Homo sapiens: one gene and its partners. The protein of the gene in region 4 purifies or fractionates together with the protein of the main gene of each other region. This does not show direct contact. Each region holds a gene or a part of one and is shown on either strand. Other genes may lie near its edges. The genes, in order: DMWD, RAD51AP1, PHLPP2 and USP46.

Region 1 (7,033 bases), on a different chromosome or scaffold from region 4:
GGGTTGGGGCTGGGTGGGAGAAAGGGGTTGAGGCCTGGGAAGGGGACGGGAGGCCAGGGCAGCTTCTTGGGTGACTCAGAGATGGATTCCGACTCGGACAGTTAAATTTAGCCCTCAGGCTCTCTGCTTTATACCAGCTTTTTTTTTTTTTTTTTTTTTTTTTCCCAGGAGGTGGGGAAGGGGTGGTGAGGACAGGACCAGGAGGGGGCACCCTCAGAGCCTGAACAGGGGTGACCTGCTGCCCAAAGGCTGGGGGAGGAAAGTGGTGGAGCCAAGCCCTCCCTGGGCAAACGAGACCCCAAAATAGCTCCTTGGCCCCTGGCCGGGGAGCCACATTCCTGCCCAGGCTGGGATTAGAAACAGAAACATTTCGGGGGGTGGAGGGTGGCGCGGGAAGACACACTCCCTGCGGCTCCGAGAGCCAAGAGGAATCTGAGCTCTTCTTTCCAGGGTGGACGGTTCTCCAGAGTGGAAGTCGGGGCCTCCAACCGGCCTGGGGTGCCTGGGCCTTGAGAGGGCCAGGCCTGAGAAACTAGGAGGCAAGGACCGAGGAGTCCCAGCTGGGCAGGGCCTGGGAAACGTGGTCCTGGGCAGTTCTGATAATTTAAAAAACACCGAGGACTTTGATGAGGGGCCCTGGCTGCGGGCAGGATGCTCTTCTCCCCAAGAGGGTCCTGCTCCAGCCGCTGGTGTGGGTCACCAGTTGTGTGACTCGCAGGTCCGTTCCCTCCCTGGGCTCCGGCTTTTCCTGCTATGAAAAGGGGTGGGAGGCGCTGGGCTGGGAGCAGGCCTGCACTCCTCCTCTGGGGAAAGCGGACTGCCTAGAACCACAGAGTACACACACAGGTCCTCTACATCATCTCCTCCGAAGGGGACAGACCCGCTGAGAAAACAGGGAACTTTAGTATAAATAAGAGGTCCTGCGGGACAGGGAGGAACCTGAGGGGCTTCCATAATTTAACACTCTTCAAAAGCACAGACAATAGCAAGGGCAGCTGGGGTGGGGGCCGGGCGAGGGCTGGACCACCCCCGGCCCTGCCCACTCAACTGAGGGGCACACTGCAGACCTGGGGCTCTTGTGGCAGGGGCGGGGAGTCTCTCCCCAGGAGTGACCAGTCACATGCTGGGGACAGGGATGAGGGTAACACTGATGTTTCAGAGGAAGAGGTCATTGTACTTGGCAGTGGGTGGGGGACAAGGCTGAGGCCACAAGGGCTATTACATCGCCCGTGTCCGGGCCAGTCTGGGGGGCCCCCAAATTTTGTGCAGGTGGGGGGACTGGAGCAGTCCATCCATCATGGTTAGTCTTGTTAATACGTTGATCTGTGAGGTCAGCAGGGAGGGTTATGGCTAGGAGGCTGGGGGCATGGGGTTGGGGGGGCCCGATATCCATGGCTTCACACCACTGTGCCACTCGGGGAGTTGCCTGGTTGGGAGGAGATGCCCTGGGGAAGATGAGAGGGAGAGATGGGAGGGGTTAGAGACCACCTGGGCTTCAGCCAGTGTCAAGGGGAGGGAGCCAGCCCAGAGTCCCCAAAGCTGCTGCCACCCTGGCCTTGCCCTTGGGTCCGCCCTAGACCCCCCAGAGGCCACTGCTCTAGGCTGGGAACTTGCATCTTAGCTAGCTTCCTGTCCTGGCAGTCAGCACTTTCACGCAATAATCAAAGTCCTTGGCGGATCCTGAGTGAGACCATGGGGTAAGGGTAAGGGTGGGAGGGGAGGGGGAAACTGGAGCTCCCTTCTAACTTGGGAGGGACCCTGAGGTGCTGGGGAAAGAACTCAGGGACAGTCCTACCTCTACCACTGACTTGCTGGGTGACCTGGGCCAACTTCCTTCCCCTGTCTGGGCCTCGGTCTCCTCGTCTGTGAACTACGGAGACAGAGGGGTCTCTTTTAGGACTCAACCAGACTCCCCAAATCCCACCACTCTTGCCTCTGAGTCACTCAGACTGTGCTCTCAAGTTCTAGGGACTCAGGACTCTACGATTCCAAAACTGAGGATCTGAGGAACCAAGCCACGGCCTCCAGGACCCTGGGCAACTGAGTCCAAGCCCTAAGAAGCTGAGACACCCAAGACGAGCTCCGAACTTACAAGATGCCAGGCCTGATTCGCCTACTATGACCTTCCCAACGCCACAGCCCACCCAGGAGGCAAGCACATCCACCCACTGCCCATCCTACAGGCTCTGTTCTAAGAGGTGATGAGTTGGAGGTCAGAGGGGGCAGTGACTTGTCCAGGGTCACAGAGGGAGTGGGACTGGAACCCAGGCCTGGGATTCCCAGCCTGTGCCTTCAGCAGGAGGCTCAGATCCTGAGTCCCAGACCCAGGCTGGCAGCCATGCCCACAGGCTTGAGCTCGCCCCTAGTTTTGGCCTGAAGTACTCAAAAAAGTTTCACGATTTAAAAAACAGATGTTCAACAGAAATAGATTCTGGTTCGAGTGACAGGCAGTAAGACCTGGCCATGTGGGGCCCATCTGCTGCCCTTCAGACGGCCAGCCTTGGATGCCCCAATTCCTAGCTGGCTCTCACACCCACCCCTCTTTCTGCTGCCTGCTGCCTAGGGCTAGACCCCCTCACTCTAAGGATCTGAGAGGTCTTGTACTGAGACACTAAGATTTCCCTGGCTTCCCCTCACCCCACGGAGCCAGAGGCTGTGACAGCAACAAAGCCCTCTCTCTGCCAATGCCTGCCTCTTCCCACGAAAGGTCCTGCCAGGTCCCCGGCAGGCTGGTGTGGGGCCACTCACCGCCTTGCCCGGCCGGGCCCAGGTGCAGATGAGGCCCTCCTGGCAGGCAGTGATGATGCAGTCCTCCAGGAACAGGAGGACTGTGAGCCGCTCCTGGGCGATCTTCTTGCACACAAGGGGCTCCAGCAGGGGCACCTCGTGGATGCGCGGGCACAGCGCAGTGCCCAGCACCTTGGCGGGGTCCAGGCGGCTGCGGGGAACAGGGCCGCTGGGCTTCTCCCCACCACTGCCACTGCCGCCACTGCCACCCCGGCTGATGTTGCCCAGGCTGTGGTAGCGCTTGTGCTCCTTCTCTGCCCCCCGGTCCCGCCGCTCCTGCAGTGTGAGCGTGGCGAAGCGGCCAATGCTGAATGGTGTGCCAGGCTCTGCCGCCACACCCGGGCCGCCCGCCTTGCCCCCGCCAGCTGGGTGCGGGAGACTGTTGGAGCGGGACAGCGAGCGAGGCAGGGGGCCTGGGCCAGGCTCGCCACCCCTCGAGCTGCTGGCGGCCGGTGGCGTGGTGCCAGGTGTGCCAGGGAGGGTGCGGGTGCGGGCCAGGGGGGGGTGCGGGTAGAGCACGTCTTCAGTGAGGTCCCACAGGCAGAACTGCGTGTCCTGGCCCGCCGAGCCAAAGCGGTAAGTAATGGAGCCAGCCTTGGGCAGTGGAGAGAGCGGGGCGCCCCCGGCCGAGCCTGTGCCCGCAGCCTCGGGCTCCTCCTCCTCCTCTTCGCCGCTCCGCTCCCCATCAGCACCGGCTGCTGTCGCCGCCTCCTCTGCCCTTGTGGTGTAGGGGTCAAAGGCCACAGCGTTGACCCAGGACTTGTGGCCATGGCCTCGAGCCACCACGCGGCCCTCGGTGAAGGACCACACGGTGACCAGGTCATCTTCGCCACCCGTCACCACGTAGCGGCCGTCAGGGCTCCAGCACACACACAGCAGGCCCCCAAAGTAGCTCTTCATGAGCCCACGCAGGAGCATGGAGTCGAAGTGGAAGACGCGCAGGCAGCCATCCTGGCTCACACAGGCCAGGTGCCGGCCATCGGGCGAGAAGGCGAACTCGTTGAGGGGCCCCTCACCCACCGCCCACTTGGCCAGCGGGTTGCGGGGTGCCTTGCTCTTGGCAGCATAGACAGAGAAGCCCTCGCCCTGCTTCAGCAGGCTGTACTGGGGCGGGGCCGAGGCGCAGGGGTGGCTGACGTTGTACAGGTACAGGTGGCCACTGGCGTGTGATGCCAGGAACAGGCTCTCCGACTCAGGCAGCCACTTCAGATATGTCACCTTGGTCTTGTCGATCAACCGCTGCCAGGGGAGACAGTGTGGGGTTGGGAGAAGGCAGTAAAACCCAGGCAGAACTTCTCCCCGACCCAAAGTCCCCAAGAAGGCCGTTGGACATGGCCCCGCTCACACAGCAGGTGCCACACCAGGCCCAGGTCCTCCTCGGAGAGAAGCTCCCAAACTGGGGAAGACAGATGGACACCAGGTCATGGAAACATGGGGAAACAGAGGCTGCTGCAAGGTGGCCACAGGGTGCTCCAAGGAGCCTCGATGTCCCATCTTTGGCGAGGGGACAGTCCTGCTTGCCACAGAATTGTCCTGTATCTCGGGGTCCTCAACCTCCGGGCCATGGAACAGTAGTGGTCCGTGGCCTGTTAGGAACCAGGCCATGCAGCAGGAGGTGAGTGGTGGGCGAGCAGGCATTACAGCCTGAGCCCAGCCTCCTACCGGAGCAGCGCACCATTCAATCCTCGTAAGAGTGCGAACCCCACCATGAACTATGCATGCGAGGGATCTAGGTGTGCGCTCCTTATTAGAATCTAACACCTGATGATCAGAGGCAGAACGGTTTCATCCCAAAACCATCCCCCCAACAGTCTGTGGAAAAACTGTCTTCCATAAGACCAGTCCCTGGTGCCAAAATGGTTGGGGACCACTGTATCTGTCTAACCCTCCCCCGATCTTTACTACGTCAGGCTTCAAGTAGGAAATTTCTTCACGGAAAGGCAGCTCCCCAAAGGAAGCGATCTTTGTTTGGTTCACTATTCTTTAAAGCAGTGCACACAGGAGGCAGCTTGAAGGTAATTCCTGGACAAATGAGTGACAACCCCCCATCCCGCTAGGTGCTTAGACAAAAAACCTCGGCATCTGCCCCTCTTTTCCTCATCCAATCCTTCCACAAATCCTGTGGGCTCGACCTTCAAAATACACCCAGAAGTGGCTGGGCGTGGTGGCTCACGCCTGTAATCCCAGCACTTTGGGAGGCTGAGGCAGGCGGATCACAAAGTCAGGAGTTCCAGACCAGCCTAGCCAATATGGTGAAATACAAGTAGAGATACAAAATCTCTACTAAAAATACAAAAATTAGCCAGGCATGGTGGCGGGCGCCTATAGTCCCAGCTACTCAGGAGGCTGAGGCAGAATTGCTTGAACCCGGGAGGCGGAGGTTGCAGTGAGGGGAGATCATGCCACTGTACTCCAGCCTGGGCGACAGAGCGAGACTCCACCTCAAAATAAAAAAAAAAGAAAAAATACACCCAGAATCTGACCTCCTCTCACCATCCCATTCAACCACCCCAAGCCTGCAATGCTGTGTGACTGGCCTCAGGCTCCAATGCCTGGGCCTGTCTGTCCTCTGCAGCCGCCACAGCGATGCTCTGTGAAGTATCAGCCAGCACCTGGCACTGTCCTGCTCTGAACACTTCGCAGCCTCTCTCAAGCAGGGTTCCAGAGCCTGAGGCCCTAATGCTCTCAGGCAGCCAGTGTATGCAACTAAGGAGCTGCTCTCCCAGGATGAGGTGCCTCCCATCCCTGGGAGAACTGAACAAATAATCACTCTAGTCACTTCTGCCTTCCAGGGCTCAGGTGAGCCCCAATGAGAAAGGCTCCTCCACAGGCTTCCAACTAAGAGTAAGGCAAAATCTCTCCGTGACCTTCCAGACTCTCCATGAGCCAGCCCCTCCGTTATTTCTTGGAACTCATCTACCATCTTCTCTCCCTCAGTAACTGCACTGGCCACACGGCTTCTGTGCAATCCTGCATTTGTCCTAGCTGGCCCCGATACTCAGAATGTCCTTCTTGGCTGGGTGTGATGGCTCACGCCTATAATCCCAGCGCTTTGGGAGGCCAAAGCAGGAGAATAGCTTGAGCCCAGGAGTTCGAGACCAGCTTGGGCAACACAAAGAGACCCCGCCTCTACAAAAAATACAAAAGTTAGCCAGTTGTGGTGGTGCATGCATGTAGTCCCAGCTACTCAGGAGGCTGATATGGGAGGACTGCTTGAGCCTGGGAGGCGGAGGTTGCAGTGAACGAAGATCGTACCACTGCACTCCAGCATGGACGACAGAGTGAGACCCTATCTCAGGAAAAAAAAAAAAAAAAATGCCCTTCCCCAGGCAACTCTTCTCACCTGCCTCCTTCAGGTCTTTATTTCAGTATCACCTCTTAGTGAGGGCTTTCCTGACCACCCTACTAAACTCTCCAAGCTTCCCTCAGCCCCTTCCCCACTGCTTCTTCTAAACAGGCCTTAATCACCTGCTGACACACGAAGACTTAACTTGATTAACTGTCTGTCTCCCCAGCTAGACTGAAAGCTCCAAAAGGGCAGGGCCTCCTGTCCAGGGCCCTGAGATGTGATATCCCTAGTGCTGGGAACGGTGCCTGGCACAGAACGGATGCTCAAAAACTATTTGTGAATGGATGAGCTAATGAATTTTTAATCCACTGACTGTTCCGTTCACTCCCTTCAGCCATTCACTCATTCTGAGAATATTTATGGAACACCTCCTCTGGACCAGAGAGAATGAGACAGAAGCCAAGAGCAGTCCCTGCCCGCGGATAAGGTCGTTTACTGGTATCTCCTCGTAGGCCAAGTTGGCCCAGGACTGAGCAATCTCCATGTATGATTCTACAACAGCGGTCCTGCAAGGTAGGAACTGGAATCCCATTTTGCAGAGGAGGAGAAGTGAGGCTCAGAGAATGGTCACCTTCCCAAAGTCACATGATGAGTAAATGGTGCAGCAGGGCTTTGAATCCAAAGCCTCCAGAGCCCAGAACTCAAAGAGCAAGGGCATCAACTAAGTCCCGACTTATTTACTAGCCTCAATTCTCTAATCTGCAAAATGGGCAGCACACTTCTGTATCCACTGGTTGATGAAAACTCAAAGAATGGCCGGGCGCGGTGGCTCATGCCTGTAATCCCAGCACTTCGGGAGGCCGAGGTGGGCGGATCACAAGGTCAGGTGTTTGAGACCAGCCTGGCCAACATGGTGAAACCCCATCTCTACCAAAAATACAAAAATTGGCCGGGTGT
Region 2 (4,691 bases), on a different chromosome or scaffold from region 4:
AACATGAAACTGGTAAGACAAGTAGGTAAAGGTGACACAACAGATTAGAAAGCTGCAAAATAATGAAGAGTAGGCATGGAGATGGGAAGAAATGACAAAGAAATGTGTCACATGAGCCAAGGAAATCAAATGTTTTCATCAGAGTATAATGAATAGGGTGTATAAGATTAGGTGAGAAAATTGTACACTGGGTTTGGCAACATAAAGGTATCAGTGCTTTCAGCCAGGCTGGTTTTAACATACTTTGAGGTAATTTTCAAATCCCCTGATAAACTATAAAGAACACGGCAAAAACAGGTTATTGAGCTGGTGCCAGATGATTAATCAATTATATCAGTACCTAATATACAGTAGGCTCTTATGTTTATTGTTGATCTACACCAAATAGAGTACCTCAGTGCTATGTAACTGGAAAATATGTTTTTAAAAAGGGGACAGGTGGGGCAGGTTAGGGGGCTGGTATATGACACTATAAAAATATACGTTAGATAAAAGAAGTGTACAACAGCAATAGACAAATGCTCACTTTAATCACAATTCTAAATTAATTATTTTCACATTAATATAGATATTTCCATAAACCAAGAAAAACTGAGTTATTATACATTTTTTAACAGCTAACATGATTTGAAAATTTTTTATTAAAAATTGATCAGAAGCTAGTTGAAATTCTCAATGTAAATATAAAATATTCATTACAATTGTTTTTCAAAGTAAATTCAGATCTAAGCTTCCTGAAAAGCTGTACTATCTCATATCATAATAGGGATGACTAAGTACTTGACAACTACTTTCTAAAGAACTTAACAAAAAGTGACTACTTGAAGATTACATTTACAACAGAAAGGCTAACATTCTCTGCGGAGCTCTCATTTTATCATGAAATGTGGACAATCAGGAACACGTGGATGAGTGGTATCAAGAAAAAGGGCATTTCAAAATATTTCCACTTTTATTAAAGGTTTTGACAATGAAGATTTCATAAAATGTCTTTAAATACTATTTTCTAGAGAATAACCATCTAAATCGGAGACATATGCCATAAAACTGCAACCATTTTAGTGTGTAAAATAATTCTAAGTTTGTACTATAAAAAGATTTGGCTAAAATACAAAACATCTTTGCGATAAAACTGACAACGTAGCTTAAGTAGCTTATAAGATTTCAGAAATGTCTTCTGAAAGAAATAAGAATGTTTTCCTCTGCCAGATAAAACTGAACAGTTAAAGTTAAGGTGCTATAAACTAGACAAAGCTAGAAAGGCACATCATGTAACTAGAAAAGAACAGCATGTGATGTGGACTTCATGTCGAACTGATAGAAAAACAGAATACGCTCTTCACAAGGAAAGGTATGAGAAGATAATTCTTATAAACAAACTTCTCATTGAAGTCTTGAAGAGTTTTACAGAGAACATAATCATAAAATGGCTAGAGGTCATTTATAGGACATGGTAATGGATTCCTTTATATTACAATACCTGCCTCAAATATAAACACAAATCAAATATAAACACCCTTGTAAAGCTGTGATTCTCCCAACCAAACATTCCTCCTGTACCACACTCAGGTGCTAGTGGCATTTGGATGCAAAGGTTTAACTCGTGCTAATCTGGACAAGCCAAGGCGGAGACTCTGATTGGGAGACTTCACAGACACTACCACCAGTGGGCTGCTGCTACTTCTGCTACCTCCAGATGCCGCTGAAAGGAAACATATGATGTGATGCTGATGATGTCAGAAATCTCTTAACAAAGATTAATTTATAAAATAAGCAGCAAAAAAAAGGTAGTTAAGCATTATTCTGCTTTCCAGTGTCTATCAAGCAATAAACTAGATCAAAAGAACAGAATGTTCTAAAGAGCAGAAATTAATACAGTATTGCCTATTTCCAAACATCCCAGAAGCCAAGGTAATGACACTAAAACCTCACCATGAAAGCTGAAAAAGGAAGGCTGGGAACAAATAATGCTAGTTGTAAAGGCATACAAAAATGCATATAATTATAATTTCTAAAGTAATAGAAAAAGCAAATGCATTTTTAAGGTCCTGCAATTTTTACAAGTAGTCCTTGAAGAGTCTATTTTTCAATTATTAAATACCTTTAAAAATGGCAAATATTGTTATTTATTTATACTAGTTTCATTATACTATTATCCTAATGTCGCAATTATTTCCATCTATTTCAAAATTATCCACATGAATGTTCACAGTTGATGGTGACTGTAGTTGCTCGCCTACACAACAGTATTATAAATTTAAAATAAATAATTATACCTGCTACCCTATAACTCAGACTATACTGCTTTATTGTTTTCTAGTTTGAAAGGTATAAAATAGTATTTTATTTTAATTTACACTTCCTTAATTACCAGTGAGACTGAAACTCTTCATATTTTCTTGTTGTATTAATAGTTCTTGGGGACACTGTTATATTTATGCCTCTGGCTAATTTTACTTTTGGGGTCTTGGTGGTCTTCTCCAGTTGTATAAGATAGGTAACAAACTGGCAATCTGAGGGCCAAATCTAGCTCTCAGATATATTGTTTTGGTTCACATGGTGCTAACAACAACAACAAAAAAAATCAACTTACAAAAATTAGCAGATTTCATATTAAAATCTGGATTTCTGGCTTCTCTTGAAAACAGCAATCAGATCTAGAAATACCAAGCCCATAATCTTGCATGGAAACAATACGATGGAGCTGAGTAGCAGCTGCTTCCTTCAAAAGGGTACGCGCTCCTGAGTCCAACAAAATTCCTACCCACGCAAGTCTACTGCATGGGCCCAATTCACTCGTTTACATCACTTGCCTGACTGTCACATGCTGACTTGATAAGCACTTTGTGCTTGATGACATTAACTCTTTATCCATCATTCCACTGTTTCCTTGTATTTTTTTAATTATGCTACTTTTAAATTTCTATAGTTATATCACTCCATTTAAATTTCCTTCATTGGGGAAGCATTAATTATTTTTAGAAATATACTAAGTATTACTCTTTGAATGATATGACATCAAGTAATTAATCTTCCCTCCTTTCCTTCTCCAAAAAGTTTTTAAGTCCTCATTAAAAATCTTAGAAGTTGTAAACCAGAATGGACTTTAAAGATTACAGTTGTTCCCAATATTTCACATGATGAAATGAAGACTCTGTAAGTTAAGTAATCATGCAGCCTCACAGCTCACGCCTAAATCTATGAATAGTAGTCAGCAGGGGAGTGAGCACTGTGGACCAATCAAGAGAGGCCCCTCAAAAGAAAAACAGGAGTAGAATTGGAAGGGCTCAGGCAAGGAGAGGGGACACATGAAGAAAGACACACCAGGCAGAGGAGGATTAAGAGAGGCCCTGAGAGAGGCATACATACAACATGTTTGAGAGACAAAAAGTGTTTCAATTTCACTGAAGTGGACGGTTCATGCAGGTGGATGACAGAAAGTAAAGACAGGACTGGTTAGGAAAGGCAGCAACAATTTGGGCCTGGATTAGGGTTTTAGTAATGTCAAGAAGGGTGAAGGTCAAAGAATTCTTGAAGGATCCATGAGACTTGGCTGTGGAGCAAAAGAAAACAGAGAAGTGAAATTTGTGAAAGCAAGAGGTTGAGTTTGCTAGGGCATTTGTTAAATGCTAGAATTGCCACATATAGATCCCAAGGCTTCAGTCAGACTGTGGAGGTCAGCAGGTCCTGAGCAAAAGATTTGCTGCCAGAAATACATACTTCAGGAATCTCAAATGTTTACACCCTTTAACACTGTAATTTTCCTACTAGAAATTTTATCCTAGGAAAATAATCAGTAATATGCCCAGAGATTTCTAAAATAAGGACATTTGCACTTATTGCAATCTTATTTATAGCACTGAAAAAATAATAAACCTGGATGTCCAATAATAAGGAATGGTTAAATAAATGAATATATGCAGCAACCAGGAACTTTGGTTTTGAAGAATATGTAATAATATGGGGAAATGCTCACACATGATGTTTGTAACTAGGAAAAAAATTTACCAGTGATAATTTTCCAAGCTCCTGTCCTTGATGATAAATATGCCATACCTGGTGGGACCCATTTAGGTTTCTTGCTTTCAGCTGAAGGACTGCGTATTTCTAATGGTTTCCTAGTGGTATCTGAAGACAGAGAAACCTTTTTTGGCAAGGACTGAGATTCTGATTTGACGGCAGCTGGAGCAGAGTCCACCGAAGTCACTTATTTGAAAAATATACGTAAAAATGTTTGTCATGCAGGAAGAAAAAGTAAGTCTAGCATATATGTGTAAAAATTATAAAGTTACATAATCATATAAAAAATAAACTTATTAATCAACAAACATTTATTGAGAGCCTAAGAATAGCCATCTTTTATGAGCATTAATATGCCAGGCAGTGTGGTAGGCATATCACACACATTACCTCTAACTCTTTACAACAACTCCAATACAGATATTACTATCCCCACTCTCAGAGAAGGAAACAGAGACGTTAAGCAATCTGCCTGTAGTCTGACAGCTAGTAAGCATCTAAGCTTAGAAACCAGATTTTCCTCCAAAATCCCATCCTTGTAACTAACCATTACACAATAGTGTCTCGTGAGTATGTGTCAGTGAGATTATGTGTCAGGCTCTAGGGTTAGAAACATGGCTCCTGCTCCCAAGGACTTTAAGGTTTAGTCACTAGACTTCAGTGGGAAGAAC
Region 3 (7,033 bases), on a different chromosome or scaffold from region 4:
AAAGGTAAACACAGCCTCTCTTTACATCTTCTCTTAGCCAGTCTCTTTCTCGAGAACCAAACCTACTTCTCCTATTCAAACAATTTCTGCTCCCATTGCGTTTCATATTTCTCTAAAAAATATCAAGAGAAAGAAATCGTTAGCTAGAACATCTGACTGAATTAGACATTTCAGTCCTCACCCCACCTCTCTCTACTTTATATTCCCCAACATTCTGCTCAAGTATCCCCTCCTTTTGTGGAGCACTTCACATCTATCATGCTCATTCGTAATAACTCAGATAACTTAATTTTCTTTACTGCTGTCTGTGTTTCCATCCATCATCTTCGTTGACCTCTCTTTTCCTTGTGTTTTCAGAAACGTGTCAAGAATAACGAAACAGCGGGTTGCAGTGGCTCAGGCCTGTAATCCCAGCACTTTGGGGGGCCAAGGTAAGAGGACTGCTTGAGGCCAGGAGTTCAAGACTAGCCTAGGTAAGATGGCAACATCCCATCTCTACAAAAGAAATTTTTTTTTATATATTAGCCAGGCATGGTGGCACACGCCTGTAGTCCCAGCTACTTGAGGGTGGAGAACAGATTGAGTTGGAGAACAGATTGAACCCGGGAGATTGAGGTTGCAGTGAGCCGTGATTGTGCCACTGCAACCCTATCTGGGTGACAGAGCGAGACCTTGTCTCTCAAAAATAGAAATTTTAATATTTTGCCTGGGCACAGTGGCTCACATCTGTAATCCCAGCACTTTGGGAGGCCAAGGCTGGCGGATCACCTGAGGTCAGGAATTCGAGACCAGCCTGGCCAGCATGGTGAAACCCTATCTCTACTAAAAAATACAAAAAAATTAGCCAGCTGTGGTGGCACACGCCTGTAATCCTAGCTACCTGGGAGGCAGAGGTGTGAAGATTGCTTGAACCTGGGAGGCAGAGGTTTCAGTGAGCCAAGACAGCGCCACTGCACTCCGGCCTGGGTGACAGAGCAAGACTCCATCTCAAAAAAAAAGAAACTTTAGGCTGGGCAAGGTGGCTCACACCTGTAATCCCAACACTTTAGGAGGCCCAGGTGAGGGATCATTTGAGGTCAAGAATTCGAGACCAGCTTGGCCAACATGGTAAAGCCCCATCTCCACTAAAAATACAAAAAAAAAAAAAAAACAAAAAATTAGCCGAGTGTGGTGGCACGTGCCTGTAATCCCAGCTACTTGGGAGGCTGAGGTAGGAGAATCACTTGAACCCAGGAGGCAGAGATTGCAGTGAGCCGAGATTGTGCCACCGCACTCCAGTCTGGGCAACAGAGACTCTGTCTCAAAAAAAAAAAAAAAACTTTAATCTATAAACCATACACAGTATTGTCTTATCTAATTTAAACTTCATCTAATCCTTAACAATACTTATGTTTCACCCTGTAATTTTATTTAGTTCAATATTGCTTTAGAGATACAACTGTGTTAATATACCCAGTTCATTCATTTGAATAATATTCCCTTATACAAATACACCAAACTTTATCCACTCTCCTGTTGACAGCATTCAGTTTGCTTCCAATTTTTCACTGCTAGAAACAATCCAGCAATAAACATTTTTGTACATGTCTCCTTATGAAAATGTGTGTTTCTCTAGGGTCCTAACCCTTTGCTTTACATCCCAAATAAGCCAAGTGTAGTATCAACACAATACTGCACAAATATACTTTCCATTCCTGCCCTGTTTCAAAAAAAATTAATGTCGCATTTGATAATTTAGGTATGTGAAATTCATATATTGCCAAGTTATCTCAAAGCAAAAACAATTTCTACAGGTAATATAACAAGTTTCTAAAGATCAGCATTTGCCTGCTCTATTTTTATGATGGGCTATTTCTGTTCTTTTTGATAAAAAAGAAATTTCCACTGACATTTCCGCAGCCATACCTCTCCAGCTTCGTTCCCTACTACTGCCCTTTACTCCATGTTTCAATCACCTCCAACTACCTGCAGCTCTCCAAACACACCAAGTACACCACAATTCTGTGGCCTGTCTGAAATGGCTTTCTCCACCTCATCCATATGACAAGTTATTCTTCAAAATCCTACTCAGGCATCACCTTCTCTATGGAGCCTTCCATATCTCCTATCCTTATTCTCCCTAGACAGAATTAATGACTACCAGACATTTTTACTAGACAGAATTAATGAATTATCTAGACAGAATTAAGAACTTCTTCACCTTGAGTACACCTCTAATACTACATCGATGACAATGGGTTTTATTTATTTATTTGATATTTCTTCCTCTTCTCCATTTCTAGCATGTTAACACCTGGGTGACACAGAAGTGTTTGTAGAACTCAGCTGACATCACAGAAACCTATTCCCAATCTGTACCTTAGTCCAATTAGCTCTGGCAAGAAGCTGAACAAACTTGGGGGGGAAAATTCCCATTTCTATGGAGAACCCTACATCTTTGCAGCAGCTGCAAAGTGAATGGGAGTAAATAAAATACTTTCAGTAGTATTCCTCATTGGAAAATAGAAATACCTATAAATACAGCAAATACTATTTTTATAATTACTAAGATTAAATATTTGAGGGTAATACATTTCTAAAGATGTCAGAGAAAGAGGAATGAAAAGTTAGCAGGTATTTCTATGTGGGAAAAAAGAAAAACAAGAGTAAGAATGGCTTTATTGTTTAAATTTAGAACTCAGGAAAACTGATCATTTTGCAGATCTTGGGGATTTAGGCATTGCTATTCAAAACCATGAGGATTATTGAATCTAACTTTAGAGAAGTAGGATAAATCCCTGCTACAAGTGAGAACTAGTTTTCTCATCAAATGCATTTTCTCAAAGCTGAACATCTCAGAATGAAAGGGCTTTCAAGGGCTTACTGCATAAACATAGGGACCATCGTATTTGTACTAAGTAATTTTAACCACTGAATAGTCAAATACTGCTAATAGTTAAATATTTAGTAGGTAAATACTGTTAAATTTTAAATACTCCTCATTTTTTAATCTTTGGGAAAGATTAACTGGACCATCTGAAAACAGTATTCCATATAGTATAGCAATATTTATACAAAGCTCCGCATTCTCTACTCAGTGGAGAAAAAAGAGTAAGCAGACACTGTTTCACACAAACAAAAAAGTCGTCTTCAGAACAACTTTCTAAGGTCAAATAATGGTCCACTGACCTTCTAAATCTTAGAAAAGTCAAGGAAGACTCCAGGAAGTTTTGTTTGTTTTGAGACACGATCTCGCTCTGTCACCCAGCCTGGACTACAGTGGCGTGATCATAGCCCACGGCAGCTTCGAACTCCTGACCTCAAGTGATCCTAAAGCCTCAGCCTTCAGAGTAGCTGGGACTACATGCACATGCCACCACACCCAGCTAATTTTTTGTATGTTTTTAAGAGATGGAGTCTTGCTATGTTGCCCAGGCTGGTCTTGAATTTCTGGACTCAAGCAATCCTCCTGCTTGGGCCTTCCAAAGTGCTGGGATTACAAGCATGAGCCACCACACCAGGCCTGATTTTTCTTCTGTGAGGATTTTTAACAGTCATTTTTAGTGCATATATATTTACCTTAGATTATAAATTCCTTAAGGAACTTTACATTATCAAAACATATATGCGGTCGGGCGCAGTGGCTCACACCTGTAATCCCAGCACTTTGGGAGGCCAAGGCAGGCGGATCACAAGGTCAGGAGTTCGAGACCAGCCTGGCCAACATAGTGAAACCCCGTCTCTACTAAAAATACAAAAACATTAGCTGGGCGTGGTGGTGCACGCCTGAAATCCCAAATACTTGGGAGGCTGAGGCAAGGAAATCACTTGAACCTGGGAGGCGGAGGCCACAGTGAGCCGAGATTGCGCCACTGCAATCCAGCCTGGGTGACAGTGCAAGACTCTATCTCAAAAAAAAAAAAAACAAAACACATGCCTGTAATCCCAGCACTTCAGGAGGCCAAGGAGGGAGGATCACTTGAGGTCAGGGGTTCAAGACCAGCCTGGGCAACATAGTGAAACCGCGTCTCAAAAAAAATTAAAATAAAATAAAGATTAAAACAACAACAACAAAATATACACGCTGTTGGTCATCATTTACCTCAAAGGATCTATCTCCTGTCTACATGATACATTCCGCCCTAAGAAGATAAACTGCTAAGTTACAACTTCAGTATATATCATTCTCTTAAACCTGACCGATGGGCACTTAAAAGGCCTGGATATTAAGCAAAGCAAAGGCTTACAGCAACAATCTAGATGGACTGTTTAGCTGTTATTAGCCACTGCTGAATTGCCTAGTGCTTCCTTCTTCTCAAGAATGTCTTGCTCCACTGCTTAACACATCAGTTAACTGCTGGAAAAACCTTCCTAGGAGCCAGGACTGCAGATGACACGGTCCTCTGAGGTGCTTTCAACTTTTAGAATCACCATTCTACTGGAATTGCTAGGTTGAGAAAATTATTTTCCCCTTACTCTTATAGAATTGTTATCACAAATTTATTTGAAAGGGAACACAATGACAATTACCTCTTACATCAAACAAGTATACAAAGAGCGTATTTTAGATTTAAAGATCTTTCTAGCCGGGCGCAGTGGCTCATGCCTGTAATCCCAGCACTTTGGGAGGCTGAGGCGGGCAGGATCACCTGAGGTCAGGAGCTCGAGACCAGCCTGGCCAACGTAGCAAAACCCCGTCTCTATTAAAAATACAGAAGAATTACCCGGGGGTGGTGGCACGCATGCCTGTAATCCCAGCTACCCTGGAGGCTGAGGCATGAGAATCGCTTGAACACAGTAGGTGGAGACTGCAGTGAGCGGAGATCACGCCACTGTACTCCAGCGTGGGCTACACAATGAGGCTATCTCTCTAAAAAGTATCTTTTTTAATTTTTTTGGCATTAATTGTTTATACATACTTTGCTCAACACCCAAAACTATTCTTGAAAAAAAAAAAAGAATCTCATGACACACACCGACATTAGTTGTAACTTCGTATCTTCTATAAGCTATGGGCCTGGGTGACACAAGGAGACTCTGTCTTTAAAAAAAAAAAAAATCTTTCTAGAAGGCAAAAGTCTTGAGGGTAAGCCATGAATTAAATACCCACTGCTTCAATTTTACACTTTTGTTTGTTTGTTTTTTTGGAGACAGCATCTCCCTCTGTTGCCCAGGCTGGAGTGCCGTGGCACGATCTCGGCTCACCGCAACCTCCACCGCCCGGGTTCAAGCGATTTTCCTGCCTCAGGCTCCTGAGTAGCTGGGATTACAGGTGCACAACACCATGCCCAGCTAATTTTTTTTTTTTTTTTTTTTTTTTGAGACGGAGTGTCGCTGTTGTCCAGGCTGCAGTGCAGTGGCACAATCTCGGCTCACTGCAGGCTCCGCCCCCCGGGGTTCATGCCATTCTCCTGCCTCAGCCTCCCGAGTAGCTGGGACTACAGGCGCCCACCACCTCGCCTGGCTAATTTTTTGTATTTTTAGTAGAGACGGGGTTTCACTGTGTTAGCCAGGATGGTCTCGATCTCCTGACCTCGTGATCCACCAGCCTCGGCCTCCCAAAGTGCTGGGATTACAGGCGTGAGCCACCGCGCCTGGCCACGCCCAGCTAATTTTTAAAAATATTTTTAGCAGAGACGGGGTTTCACTATGTTGGCCAGGCTGGTCTTGAACTCTTGGCCTCAAATGATCCACCCGCCTCGGCCTCCCAAAGTGTTGGGATTATAGTAGTTAGCCACTGTGCCCAGCCCAGTTTTATACTTTTAACTCTAAAAGTGTTCCATGAGGGCAATGATCAGTTCAAAGGTGATATACTATTACACACTCACATACAATAATAAGATATACATGGTATAAACAGGGTCTGGTAAAGTAACTCTCCATATTCAGTTAGTTCTGCAAGAATGTGAAATACGGCCGGGTGCGGTGGCTCATGCCTGTAATCCCAGCACTTTGGCAGGCTGAGGCAGGCGGATCACCTGAGGCCAGGACTTCAACACCAGCCTGACCAACATAGAGAAACCCTGTCTCTACTAAAAATACAAAATTAGCCAGGCGTAGTGGCACATGCCTGTAATCCCAGCTACACGAGAGGCTGAGGCAGGAGAATCGCTTGAACCCGGGAGGCGGTGAGCCAAGATCGTGCCATTGCACTCCAGCATGGGCAACAAGAGCGAAACTCCACCTCGGAAAAAAAAACAAAAGACGAAAAAAAAAAAAACAATGTGAAATACTCTTAGGTAGAAGATGTTTCTGCATTCAAAACTTTAAAACAATATAGACTCATATCTGGGAATACACACGTTATTAAATATTGTGAAAGCGGTGGGGAGGGATGGGATGAGATAGAGAAAGAATATGTCAGCGCTTTAAAAATGTTTTGGGGCTGGGTGCGGTGGCTCATGCCTGTAATCCCAGCACTTTGGGATGCCGAGGAGGGACAGCCTTTAAGCCCAGGAGTTGAAGGCCAGCCTAGGCAACAAGGTAAGACCTCATCTCTACTAAAAAAACAAAACAAACAAACAAAAAAAAAAACGTGCCTATGATCCCAGCTACTCAGGAAGCTAAGGCAGGAGGATCACTTGAGCCATGATCGCGCCACTGCATTCTAGCCTGGGCAAGAGAGAGGCTCTGCCTCAAAAAAATAATAACAATAATAACGTTTTGGGCTGGGTGCAGTGGCTCATGCCTGTAATTCCAGTGCTTTCGGAGCCCAAGGTTAAGAGGATCACTTGAGGCCAGGAGTTTGAGATCAACATAGCAAGACCCCATCTCTACAAAAATAAAAATAAAAATTAGCCAGGCATGTGCCTATAGTCCTAGCTACTTGAGAGGCTGAGGTACTTGAGCTCAGGAGTTTGAACCTGCAGTGAGCTATGATCACACCACTGCACTCCAGCGTGGGCTACACAATGAAGCTATGTCTCTAAAAAAAAATCTTTTTAAATTTTTTTTGGCATTAATTGTTTATACATACTTTGCTAAACACCCAAAACTGTTCTTGAAAAAAAAAAAATGAATCTCATGACACACACCGACATTAGCTGTAACTTCC
Region 4 (7,033 bases):
CATAGCTCACACAGTGCTTCCATGGGCAGGATCTCTTCTGATGCTCCCCAAAAAGCTTTAAAGAAGGTATTTCATTGACTACCTTTGTTGTAAAAAGATAAATAGGATCTGAGATTTACCAAACAGGATTCTGAATTCCAAACTCCTCCACTTTACAACTATATGGAAAATAGAAGTTGTTTTGTTTTTCCCAAAGCCTTGCTGCTCTAAAAATGGTCCCGAAACCAGCATTATCTGTACCACCAGAGAGTTTGTTAGAAGTGCAAAATCTCCGCCCTGCCCCAGACGTGCTGAATCCAAATTGACATTTCAACTAGACCTCCAGCTAATGCCTATGCATGATAAAATTGGAGGCATACTGCTTTACTCCAAGGCAATTCTTCCATTCTACCAAATTACATCCCTTCATTCATTTATCAATATTTATTTATTGAGCACCAACCACATATGTGCTAGGCACTGTGCTGACAGCTGGGAAATCAACACTGAATAATACAAATAAATACAGTTCCTGCCCTCATAGAGTTGTCAGTCTAACATGGTGGTTTATCAACCTTGGATGCTCACATCGGAATCAACTGTGGCACTTAAAATACACACACACACATACACACGCAGGTGCCTAAAATTCACCCCAGACTACCTATATCTACATACTGTCAGAAACGCTGGAGACTGGGACCCTAGAAACTGCATGTCAATAAAGCTCCAATTGGTGGAACCACTTTGGAGAGCAATTTGACACACCTAGCAAAGCTGCAGATGGGCGCATCCTAAAAGCAGCATATTGACTTCCAGGATTATACCCTAAAGAAATGAAGACACCTGAGCAAAGAAGACAGAAGCAAGAACATTCGCTGCAACACTGTTTCCAGAGAGAATATTGTAGAAACTACCAAACTGCCCCTAAATAAGAGAATGAATAAGTAAACCATGGTTAAGTCAAAGAATCCTGTTACAGAGCAGTCAGAATGAATAAACTCGACCTCTATGTGTTGACATAATCTCAAATATACTTGTTGAGTAAAGAAAGACAGTTGCAAAAAGCTACACGATTTTATCCACACACAAACGTTGCAATCCATTGCTTATGAATTCATAAATACAAAGTAAAGTATAAGACATGTTTGGTAAACACCATATCAACTTCAGGAAAATGGTTTGCTCTGGGAGGAAGAGAAAGGAAAGAGATTGGGTTGAGTTAGTGTCTGTTTTTAAGGTAAAAGAGTCTAAAAAGAGTTAGTGCTGTTTTTACAGTAATATGTCTAAAAATAAAAGTAACCAAATATGGCTACATTTTAATATCTGTTAAATCTGAAGGGTAGGTAAACATATATAACATTATTTTTTCATGCTTTTTTGTATGTTAATGTTTTGTGATTTAATTATTATTTTTAAAATTTCTTTTAAAAGCTTCACAGGTGATATGATATAAAGCCAGTGCTGAAAATCTCTGTTCTGAATATATAAACTAATACAAAACCTGGCTATTTAATACCAAGAAAAAGTTAAGTTGGCCGGGTGCAGTGGCTCACGCCTGTAATCCCAGTACTTTGGGAGGCCAAGGTGGGCGGATCACGAGGTCAAGAGATCAAGACCATCCCAGGCAACATGGTGAAACCCTGTCTCTACTAAAAATACAAAATTAGCTGGGCAAGGGGGCACGTGCCTGTAGTACCCTACTCAGGAGGCTGAGGCAGGAGAATCGCTTGAACCTGGAAGCAGAGGTTGCAGTGAGCTGAGATCATGCCACTGTACTCCAGCCTGGCAACAGAGTGAGACTCCATCTCAAAAAAAAAAAAAAAAAAGAAAGAAAGAGAAAAAAGAACAGAAAAAGTTAAGTTACTAGCTTAAATAATTTTACATTCATTTTTTTAAAAACTTTCACATGGCAGGTAATTTCTTAAGCAATATTTTTTAAGAGGCTGAGGTTATTACCCAAGGGAAGCAATATTTCTCCAAGCATGGTCCTCAGCTCACCTATAACAGAATGTGGAGGGAGTAGAAGGAGGAGGGAACACTAATTTAAAAGGCAGATTCCAGAGCCCCAACTAAGACCTACTTAATCAAACTCTCTGGGTGTTGAACCCCAGAGTCTAAATTTTTAATAAGAGAATGCACATGTGGGAACCATTCTTTGGTACACCAAAGAACCTAAAACCATACATTTCTTTGTTTAATGAGGTAATACTCATCATACTCTGAAAATTAAAATGAAGTGTAGAGAATACTTTCTAAATATTTAAGACAGTAATTCCACCAGTATATATTCAAGCAGATCCAGATAAAAATTTTCCTGCACTGTGTACCTAACCTGAAGGACAGAGAAATGTATTTTAGGAAGATGACCATCGTTTCACAATGCCTTTCTAAAAGAACTTGAAAAAGCAACTGGGTAAACAGGAAAACTCTGCAAGTCCAGCTTTGCTGCTGTTCTCACCAGAACAGGCCCCAGACACGATTTTCACTAAAGCCAATGTCAATTAAACAAAGCAAATGTGGCTTGAACAAGGCCTTGCTGGCACAGGCAGGTCTCCCAAATTTACTCTCAAAATTCAAGGTATCTTCTCAGTGCTACTCTATTATCTTTTTGTTACTAGTTTTCACCCCTCCACAGTGATTATCTTGTCATCATTTTTTTCACCTGCATCTTCCAATCCATCCCTACCTTTCATGACTTTTGCTTTGGTCTCCTTGATTTTCCTCTTCACTGTCCCTTCTTCATTGTCCCTGTTTTCAGACAAAACCAAAACTACAATCCTGACTTTCAAGACCTGGAAAACTGTTCTCAGGCCCCTGAGTTGAAAACAAACCAGCATAACAAACACATGAAAAGATGTTCAACCTCCCCTAGCAAACAGGAAAAGTGCAAATTTTAAACCACAAAGGCACAATGTCACACCCATCAGACTGGCAAAACATCAAGTCTAGCAATATCAAATATCTGCAAACATGTGAAGCAACTGGAACCCCCAAACGCTGCTTGGTTGGAATGCAAATTGGCATAACTTCTTTGGAGAGCAATCAGGCAACTTATTAAAGAAGACGATCAAATTCCTTTGACCCAGCAATTCCCTTCCAGGTTTACACCACAGAGAAACTGTCAACTGTCAACTGTGTATACTATACACAGGGAGATGAGTTCACAACTGTTCATTGCATTAAAACAGCACACTCACAAATTTGTAAACCTGCTTACAACATTAAAATGAATGTGTCATAGCATATTTATATAATGGAATGTTATACAGCAGTTAAAATAAACTAGGATTATGTGTCTCTCAATGGATAAATAGCAAAATCACAATTTAAACAATAAAAGCAAACTGAGAGGAATGTTTAATATTATAAAGCATGTTTAAAACATGAAAAAATACACTATATCTAGTTTATGAATGCATACAAATCTAGTAAAAATATAAAAATATACAATAAACACTAAATGCAGAATAGTGGTCACTCTGTGGGGAGAGGCAATGAGATCAGGAAGGACTCATAGGTGGTTTTAAATGTATATATAGTATTTTATTTCTTCACTGGGTGGGGAGTACACGAGTATTCACTCTATTATTCCACATTTCTGTATGTCTAAAATTCACCATCACTCAGAAAAAAAGGCAAAGTCTGAGCTAATTTAAAAAGTATCTGAGGGTTCTAAAAGTGACATTGGAACTTGAGGAAGAAAAGGAAGGTTGGCCCTATGAGGGTAAAGTGAAGCTTTGGCGACCACAGAGTCCCATCACCATGATCTTAAAACTATCCATTGCAAAGAATCATTCTGAGAATTGGGGTAAACTTCCATGTACAGCACTTACAGCATCCCTCAAACTTCAAGCCATAGTCCCAGAAGAGAAATATTCCAAAAACCCTTTACTGTTAGGGTTGTTCGCTAACACAGAGTTCGTCTCAAGAATGTTTTCGTGGCAGGGCACAGTGGTTCACACCTATAATCCTAGCACTTTGAGAGGCTGAGGCGGGCGGATCACCTGAGGTCAGGAGTTTGAGACCAGCCTGGCCAACATGGTGAAACCCTATCTCTACTAAAAATGCAAAATTAGCCAGGCATGGTAGCAGGCAACTGTAATCCCAGCTGCTCAGGAGATTGAGGCAGGAGAATCACTTGAATCCAGGAGGCAGAGGTTGCAGTGAAGCCATCGCACTCCAGCCTGGGCAACAAGAACAAAACTCTATCTCAAAAAAAAAAAAAAAAAAAAAAAAGATTTTGCTGATTGATTTTTGGGTGGCCTTTTCTCTTAAAGACCACCAAGGCCTTTCAAACCCTTAGATCAGCATTTGGTTCCACCACAACTGAAGGTTTGTTATAAGAAGCTGCATTAAAATAATTAGACCAGAAAAGTTAACTAGACTAAAAGACACCATCTTTTACATCTCTTCCAGTTAGTTAGCTTTGGGTGGCTTCATGGGTAAGCTAGAGATAGAGATAGGTGGTTACCAAATACCTTTCTGATGATACCACAGAATTTAATACCATCATGGAACCCCAATCTATTCACACTAACTAGAAAGACCAGGAGGGGGAAAAAAAAGACATCTGAGCTAGAGAAATTTCTCTTAATTGCTAAGAGAATCAAAATTGAAAATGCCTTTCAATTATAACCCAAACATACCAAAATTCCACTTAGTGAAGAATAAATAAACAGATTTTATGGTATGAGTGAACTGAAGCACATAAAGTTGTTATACAGAAAAGGTATCATAATCTTTCATTCTAACTAAATACCAGCATTCAACTTTGTTTTCTCTGAGGAGTCCAAGAAAAACAGAAAAATCCGCAGAACTAATTGTCAGGTCCCGACCTAATATAAACCTCTGCATATGAGACCAGTGGGGCCAGAAAAACAGAATTTCTTTTCTTTAAACATTAATCCACCTCACCTCAGACTGTATTTTCTAATCCCAGCAACTATCAGAGTAGACCCTCATATGACTTTACACCTAGCTGATATATTAACTAAACTTATAATTGCCAACTATCTTTGAGAATGGAAAGCATGAATAACAGTAACAGAGGAAAAGGCAAGATATCTGTTCCCCCAAATCACAAGATGGACATATTTTTTAATAATTAAAAAGTTGTTTCCAACCATTCTCAAAATACTTGCCTTAGGTAAGTAGTTGACTTATCAAGATAAAACTATAAAAATACTCTAGTTTTGTTTCAAAATTGTAATGTTTACTTTCCCTTTATTTCCAGATAACTTCATTTATTTATATGATACATTTTTATTTACATGATTTTGTTTGTTTCTTTTTGGTAGAGATTGGGTCTCACTATGTTGCCTAGGCTGATCTTGAATTCCTGGGCTCAAAGAATCCTCTTGCCTCGGCCTCCCAAAGTACTGGTATTACCAGTGAGCCACCATGCCCAGCCTACCTCATTTATTTAAAAGAACTAAAATCTGGCACTCAAACTGATGTCAAAAATTATCCTGAGGCTGTTCTACAGACGCTAAAATGCTAACATGTCATAAGTTCAATACAGTTTTAAACAAGGTAGTTAGGTAATGAAGTGGTTGCTAACCAATTAAGAGGTGCAGATTTTCATAAAGCCTTTATCTAAGGAATTCTACCATGAAGTTTTTCATGACCAAAAACAGAAAATCAGTTTTACAAGATGAGAAAAACTAAGGTCTCCGGAAATACAACAGTTTGCCCAAAAGCACCATTAGATTCATGCTTAACTGGAGAGACACCCAATGGTGCAGATTTCAATTCTAACTCACATTGACTACAATCATGTCCTCATATAAAATAAAAGCCAGAAGCAGAATGTGTATACAACTTTGGTCAAACGAGAATGTATTTTTGAAATGTCCTGTTGTGTTAATCGGTCTTTCCACTGTACAGCTGCTGGGAGTTTATTCAACTTCTATCTGTGCTGATATAACACTGTATTGAAATTGTTTCATCTTTACCAATGTTAACACCCACAAGATAAGGAACAGCTGAGCCCCTTGGGGACAGGGACTCACCTCATTCATTTATTAAGCACTTGAGTATAGTCTGTGCCAACACCAACATAGCAGGTCCTCAACAGATGGCCATTTATCGGAACAAAACTCGTAATCATTTGATACACAGCATTTTCTCAGAGGTACATCTTACAGCATTATTAACAAATGAAATAAGATTAGATGATCTGAAGCAACTTGCATTGGTATGTCACATTTGGTTTCTTCTAACTAATGCTTCCTTTTTAGAAAATTTCTCAAGCTCTTCAAATAGGAAACTTAAAAAACCCAAAAACAAAAACTTTCCATTTGCAGGGCCATAAAAATATATAGGAAGTTAAATCCATTGGTCTGGACAAAAATCAGAGGATTATCAACAGAAGACATTTCCTCATGCTTGGTAGCAGCTAGTGCATTATGAAAATTACAACACACCAGCCAAACAAGCTTTACTATCTCTGAACCACACACTGCTGTGTGGCCAAGCTGCCTTGCCCTGAGCAAGTTCATCAAGAATTACCATGGCAGGAATTCACATGGAAGAAAAATTAAAACAAATAGAAACTAGTACTAAACTTCCAGTGAACAATAAAACTTCAGCAAGTGGGTGGGTAAGTGGAGGAATGAAGATATTTTCCAAGTTTCCTATAACTAAAACTGGCACAAGAAGTATGGGGAAAAGAGGGGATGTTTAGTTCTCAATCACACGAAGTATCTGCTACAAATTTGATTTCTGCTCTGCTGGGTCCTTTCTTATCTGGTGGAGGAAACAAATCCACTTTCAATGATAGATCTTCGTTTTTTCCTGTTACCCAGAAAAATGGTACCTTCTAATATCCTTTCTGAACACATATCAGCCTGTTCAAAATATGTTAAACGATGTGCTTAAGAAAAAAATGCAATCACCATTTGCTCTTACTACAACTACTCAAACCAGCTGGGACCAAAGTTAGGAGCGGGAAGGGTCAGTAAGAGGCCCACAGAGGAGCTAAGCAGTGAGAAGGGACCTGTAAGACACCTACCTGAAAACAATTCATTATTGAGCAAAGAATCTAAAGAGA

Evidence for each region.
Region 1: the proteins of USP46 (region 4) and DMWD purify together in Homo sapiens (affinity purification with mass spectrometry; 7 studies listed by BioGRID and IntAct, with this or other methods). This does not show direct contact.
Region 2: the proteins of USP46 (region 4) and RAD51AP1 purify together in Homo sapiens (affinity purification with mass spectrometry; 4 studies listed by BioGRID and IntAct, with this or other methods). This does not show direct contact.
Region 3: the proteins of USP46 (region 4) and PHLPP2 purify together in Homo sapiens (affinity purification with mass spectrometry; 6 studies listed by BioGRID and IntAct, with this or other methods). This does not show direct contact.

The regions. Positions count from the first base shown.
Region 1 is NC_000019.10:45,782,846-45,789,878, forward strand, and holds the end of DMWD (dystrophia myotonica WD repeat-containing protein), read right to left. Parts: intron 4,027-7,033; coding exon 2,749-4,026; intron 1,871-2,748; coding exon 1,796-1,870; intron 1,446-1,795; coding exon 1,398-1,445; 3' UTR 102-1,397; downstream 1-101. UniProt on the Homo sapiens protein: Regulator of the deubiquitinating USP12/DMWD/WDR48 complex. Functions as a cofactor that promotes USP12 enzymatic activity.
Region 2 is NC_000012.12:4,555,868-4,560,558, reverse strand, and holds the end of RAD51AP1 (RAD51-associated protein 1), read right to left. Parts: intron 4,207-4,691; coding exon 4,057-4,206; coding exon of another isoform or gene 4,009-4,056; intron 1,703-4,008; coding exon 1,566-1,702; 3' UTR 512-1,565; downstream 1-511. UniProt on the Homo sapiens protein: Structure-specific DNA-binding protein involved in DNA repair by promoting RAD51-mediated homologous recombination.
Region 3 is NC_000016.10:71,714,690-71,721,722, forward strand, and holds part of PHLPP2 (PH domain leucine-rich repeat-containing protein phosphatase 2), read right to left. Parts: intron 1,152-7,033; exon of another isoform or gene 865-1,151; intron 546-864; exon of another isoform or gene 113-545; 5' UTR 107-112; coding exon 1-106. UniProt on the Homo sapiens protein: Protein phosphatase involved in regulation of Akt and PKC signaling.
Region 4 is NC_000004.12:52,649,302-52,656,334, forward strand, and holds part of USP46 (ubiquitin carboxyl-terminal hydrolase 46), read right to left. Parts: exon of another isoform or gene 7,010-7,033; coding exon of another isoform or gene 6,995-7,009; intron 1-6,994. UniProt on the Homo sapiens protein: Deubiquitinating enzyme that plays a role in behavior, possibly by regulating GABA action. May act by mediating the deubiquitination of GAD1/GAD67.